Regions from separate parts of the Homo sapiens genome. Here region 1 is linked to region 2. The links come from fine-mapping of genetic effects on plasma protein levels. Region 2 holds a variant in brackets. A gene starts in the other region. All regions are shown on their reverse strands.

Region 1 (2,925 bases), not on the chromosome of region 2:
TGAGAACATGAGGTGTTTTTCTCTTCCTGCGTTAGTTTGCTGAGGATAATTGAAACCAGAAATCTGATGTTAGCTTTTGTCTCATGGGCCAACTGAGTTCTAAACGGACCACAGGAATATCATTCTATGACAGGAGAATCAAAACAACAAGGAAGATTATGCTGATGGGAGACCTTTGCTACACTACCCAGCTGGCCAACAGGCATAGCAATGTATGCTTGCTTTCTTTAAAGCAGAGAGTGCATACACATCTCGAACCAGTTAAGCAAACGTTTAACAACTTGCTCTATATTTGAACATCACCTCTGAATGCACTTTCAACTGCTGAGGCACTTATTTTGAGCTTGGGTCTTAGTTTCCTGAAATTAACTCCAGGATTTTCACTTACCCTGTTTTGCACTGTAGATAATTTAATAATTGTCCCACCCATAAAGATATCACATTATATGTTTCTTCTTTATATGTTTTCATCAAAAGCCATCCTTTATTCCACTTAAGTTATTGTTTTACAGTACCAAAATATCAACCTCCTGTTTATTTTGTTCACAAACAATATTTTCTGAATTAAATAAATACTTCATACAAAGCAGGTAAAAATATAAATATTCTTCTTCTGGTCCCTGACACTAACTTTCCAACATCTTCTAAAGTTAACTGGAGTTCAAAACCGTAATGTAAATCAACAGCTACTGAATCTACTCCTTCTTACTAAACTCAGTACCTGCAAAGTCCACTTCCATTATTGGGGTTGCAGAAGATGGTTTCAGAAGTAATGGCACAGAGATTGAAACCATTTGCTGCCTTTGTCTTTCTTTTAGAATGCAGATTCCAAACATCTTTTTCTATATGAAACTTGCCAAAATTTTTTCTTATAATTTAAAATATCTTTTAATGTAGAGTTTACTTTGTAAGCCTGAAAGACGAATTTTGTAGGCATTCGCTCTGCTTCCTTTTCAGAGCTTAAATCATATACTATTATCCAATGATAATTGTCACCTTTCTTTCCTGTCCTCAATTACCTTCGATTAACAACAATGATAATATATTAATAATACCCTCCATTTCCCTCCAAGCAATTATAGGCATTTTAGTTACATTAACTAATATCAACCCATCAACCCTGTAAGGAAGGGAAGGGAAGATATTATTTTAATGAAGAGGATGTTTGAGCACTGTGACTTACCCAAACAAAAAACAGCTGAGGTGGACCAAGCAAGGATTTCTTGTCTTAGGTAGGAAAACATCTCAGCCAGGTGTTTATCAATTTGTCAGGATATTCCTCCAGGGTTGACTCAGTATTCATTGTTCAAAAAGCTGATGTCTATTGAAGATTGTCTCCGTTCCACAAGTAATATTTGTCAGGTGACTTGGGTGTAAATCTTTTTGCTAGAAGCTAAAATCATTGACCAGAATTTAATTTTACATGCTAATTTTCTGTCTCTTAATTTGGAGGTAAATAAAATGAGTCAAATGCTGGTGCCTAGAATCTTTAGTCTTGCTGCTGTTGCCCATTGGCCATTTCAGAAGAGTCACGTGATGAAGACGCTCTTTAAATTAAACTACTGGCAGCACCGTAATGCCTATATTTCTTTGGTTTTCAATTACGAGTGGCTCTTCTCAGCAAGTGTTCCATGATGGTTGAGCCCTTCTTGGGAACCTGGAAGCTGGTCTCCAGTGAAAACTTTGAGGATTACATGAAAGAACTGGGTGAGAAATACCATTACAAATTTGGAAATTGGCAAAGCATTTTGTGATGTGATTGGGTTTGTACTTTACCATGAATTTTCCTACAATTATCTTCCTTTTGTGATCCTAGGGTATATAGACTAACACAATGTATGCTTCTACTTTTGCTTTTTTAAATTACTAGTAATAATTGTCTCTTTTTGGAAGACTAGGCCCACAGACACCTCTGTCCAGTCATGATCCATATATTTAAGCCCATTTATCCTTTTTGAAAATACTTCACCTAACTTCTAGATAGAATTTCATTTTAGCTTGGTCATTTCATTTAATAACATTTTTCCCAGCTTCAAATTTATAGACAGTAATCACTACCTACAATTAAATTGATCAATTAAATTTGTTTCAAGGTTTAAGTTATAGCTTTAAAACAGCAGTATCAACTAACAAAATTTCTAGTTGGTTAATTTTTAGAGTTCTCATAAATGTGAGAGATATTTTATAAACATGGTTTTGAAGAATTACAAATCTGAAGAAACACAACATTTTTACTCATTGAATGTCTCACCACTGGATATTCCTCAGAATTATAAACCCTACCAATCCTTTAATCTCTAACTCAAGTCATTTAGTTACACATTAATTATAATGACTTGGGTGTATAATAGCTAAACTGTTCTTTACTAATGGAAGAACAGCAATTATTTCATATTTTTCATATTTAATTAAGAGAAACCTCCCTTGTAGTAAACTGTATACAAAGCCAAGGACTTTCTTATCTTTACTTTTTTTTAACTTACATAACATGCTTAATGGATGCTTACAATTATTAATTATGTTTACTCATTCTAGACAATGAAATAACAATGCCTTATCCCCATAATAAGTCAATGTGCTTATAAATGTAATATTTGTTCCTCTGATGTAGTCAATATTCACTTTCTCAGAGGGTCATAAGAAACAAGTTTTTCTGTCTCTTCATAGATTTATAGACTCACTTGTTTTGAATAAAAATTGGGGGGGTATATAAAAAACTTGGGCCTTATGGCCAGAGTAGCACTTGTGTTGACTGGGAGCTGGGTTTAGGCATAATACAAGCAAGAATAACAGCTGAGCAGTTTCTATGTGCCAGTACCATGCTAACCCCTTTCATTTAACCTTTTAAAACATCCGCTGGCTGGGTACAGTGGCTCAGGCCTCCAATCCCAGCACTTTGGGAGGCCAAGGCAGGTGGATCACCTG
Region 2 (2,925 bases):
CTGCATAATGGATGTTATGCAGATGTCTGCATGTGACTGTGTAGGAGTAGATATTGATTTTGTATGTTTGCGATATATTATACTTAAAAACATTTTAACTGTGGGCCGGGCACGATGGGTCATGCTTGTAATCCCAGCACTTTGGTGGGCCAAGGTGGGCCTATCATCTGAGGTCAGGAGTTTGAGACCAGTCTGGTGAAATCCCCTCTCTCTACAAAAAATACAAAAATTAGCCTTGTGTGTGGTGGCATGCACCTGTAATCCCAGCTACTCTGGAGGCTGAGGCAGGAGAATTGCTTGAACCAGGGAGGCGGAGGCTGCAGTGAGCCGAGATCATGCCACTGTACTCCAGCCTGGGCGACAGAGTGAGACTACATCTCAAAAAAAAAAAAAAAATTAATTGTGGTAAAATACACATAGCATAAAAGTTAGCATTGCACCCATTTTTTAAGCGTAGAAATCAATACTGTGAAGTACATTCATGTTGTTGGGCAATCAGTCTTTAGAACTGTTTTCGTCCTGTAAAACTCAAACTCCATACCCCTTAAACAACAGCCCCTATTCCTCTCCTTTCCCGGCCCCCTGTAACCACCATTCTTCCATCTTTCTCTGTGAATTGGACTATTTTAGGTACAGTCATATAGTGGAGTCACCTATCTTATTTCACTTAGCATACATCATACTTTAAAAAGATTTAATGCTGGGCGCGTTGGCTCACGCCTGTAATCCCAGCACTTTGGGAGGCCGAGGTGGGTGGATCACCTGAGGTCAGAAGTTCGAGACCAGCCTGGCCAACATGGTGAAACCCCATCTCTACTAAAAATACAAAAATGAGCCTGGTGTGGTGGCGGGTGCCTGTAATCCCAGCTACTAGGGAGGCTGAGGCAGGAGAATCACTTGAGCCTGGGAGGCGGAGGTTGCAGTGAGCAGAGTTCATGCCACTGTACTCCAGCCTAGGTGACAGAGCAAGACCCTGTCTCTGCCCCCCTGACCCCCCCAAAAAACACCACGATTTAAAAAGTAGGGTTTGGGGGACTTTTGCTATGATTGGCTTTTAAGTATAGATATTGGCAGTTTTTGTCATTTTGGTTAAAAATACAATCATTTACCACATCTTTGGTCTACTCCAGTAGTTCTCAAATCGATGCAGGAGTCAGAAATTATGTGGGTGATTTAGATTATTTTTCTTTTCTTTTTTTTTTTTTTTTTGTAGAGACAAGGTCTCACTATGTCACTCAGGCTGGTCCTGAACTCCTGGCCTGAAGCGTTTCTCCTATCTCAGCCCCCCAAAGTGTTGGGATTACAGGCGAAAGCCACTACACCAGGCCCGTGTGGGTAATTTAAAAAATATATGGCCTCCCGGGCAGTACCCTAGAATCTTCTGCGGCCCTGTGGATGTGTGTTTTTTCTTTTTTTAAAGTCCCCACCAGCTGCAATCAGCTTACCACAGGCTGTGAGTGGCATCTGGTGATGTCTCTACAGGCTGAATTCTATGGTAGCCAAATGGATCTGAGGCAGCGTGATTCTGGTCTCTTCAGCATCCGTCACCGGGGTGACTGTTCAGGGGGTTTAAGGGAGGTTTGGGGGATTTGCATATCTTTGCCCTGATGCTGAGAAGTAAGTAAGGCCCGTGTCTCCTGTGTCTCCTGAACAGTTTTATCCAAGCTGTGCTTGTGATACTGTCTGTCTTCTTGTACTTGTTTGCCTACAAAGAGTACCTCGCCTGCCTC[G/A]TGCTGGCCATGGCCCTGGGCTGGGCGAACATGCTCTACTATACGCGGGGTTTCCAGTCCATGGGCATGTACAGCGTCATGATCCAGAAGGTGCGTTGAGAGCTGCGCCGGCGGGAGGGCCCTCGGAGGATGGCCATTTTTCAGATGGGGAAACTGAGATCTGGAGAGGAAGAGGGGTTTACCAAGGGGCAGGTCACTGCTCTTTCTCCCAAATGCCATGCACTCCCTTTGCTTTCGGCCAGGCTTTAAGTGTCAAGACCTTAAATCCCCCAGGCTTGTGGGGTGCTGGGGAGGGGTACAGTTTGTGGAGGAATGTTCTCACCCCTGGGCAGTGGCGTGCTGGTAAACATTTAACGACTGTTCTGTGTGTGTGTGTGTGTATGTGTGTGTGTGTAGGTGGAATATGTATATTCCATATATATACACAAAAGACTTATCATACATTTTACTATATAAACGATGTGTATCACACAATTTGCAAATAATGAAAATATACCATGCAGTTTATTGTAAATTCCACATAGCCAGTTGAGTCTCAGAATAATTTGTTGCTTTTTTTTTTTTTTTTTGGAGACCAAGTCTTGCTCTGCTGCCCAGGCCAGAGTAAAGTGGTGCGATCTCGGCTCCCTGCAACCTCTGCCTCCTGGGTTCAAGCAGTTCTCCTGCCTCAGCCTCCAGAGTAGCTGGGATCACAGGCACGCACCACCATGTTGGCTAATTTTTGTATTTTTAGTAGAGACAGGGTTTCAGCATGTTGGCCAGGATTGTCTTGAACTCCTGACCTCAGGTGATCCACCTGCCTCGGCCTCCCAAAGTGCTGGGATTACAGGCATGAACCACCGCGCCAGGCCTATTTGTTGCTTTTTATTGAATTCTAGTTTTTGTTGTCAACTTTTGGTTGCAATTGACAAAAGAGTGCTATCAGACATGAATGTTGGTTGAGAGTTTTCTTTATAAGCAGTGATTGAAGTGAAACAATTAAGATTTATGTTGAACTTTACTTGTTTATCAATGATGTGAGCAACTTCTTTGCTGAATTGGATACTAGTTTGCAAATACCAGAATAATATTCTGTTGATATTTTTGTGCTATACATAATGTAAAGGCTGCAGACAGAACACATTTTAAAATTTAAACTGGATTAATAGTTTCTCCATCACTGTCTTAAATCATTTAGATCTAGATATCAACAAAA

Direction of the effects. Alleles are on the strand shown, and positions count from the first base shown. The strength of an association depends on the size of the effect and on how common the allele is.
For the plasma level of the protein whose gene starts at base 1,579 in region 1, allele A in region 2 goes with a higher level than allele G (weak association).

The links. PIP is the chance, under the fine-mapping model, that this variant and not a neighbour inherited with it causes the effect. Protein levels are from antibody-based Olink assays in UK Biobank. Linkage for the fine-mapping came from a reference panel and not from the study's own genotypes, which makes the PIPs less certain.
Region 1: it holds the start of FABP9, and the variant in region 2 is fine-mapped to the plasma level of the FABP9 protein (UK Biobank, PIP above 0.99).

Annotation. Positions count from the first base shown.
Region 1 is chr8:81,460,233-81,463,157 of GRCh38, reverse strand. FABP9 (fatty acid binding protein 9) reads left to right here and starts at 1,579. Exons shown (of 4, transcript NM_001080526.2): 1 at 1,579-1,707. The coding sequence starts at 1,635. LOC101927118 (a long non-coding RNA gene) reads right to left here and starts at 1,700. Exons shown (of 9, transcript XR_001745980.2): 1 at 1,184-1,700.
Region 2 is chr17:3,523,093-3,526,017 of GRCh38, reverse strand. It overlaps TRPV3 (transient receptor potential cation channel subfamily V member 3), which reads left to right. Exons shown (of 18, transcript NM_145068.4): 13 at 1,655-1,820. Among named protein-coding and RNA genes, the nearest start is that of TRPV3, 33 kb to the left of the region's middle. RefSeq lists an enhancer at 1,304-1,803. The variant G/A (reference allele first, on the strand shown) is at 1,731.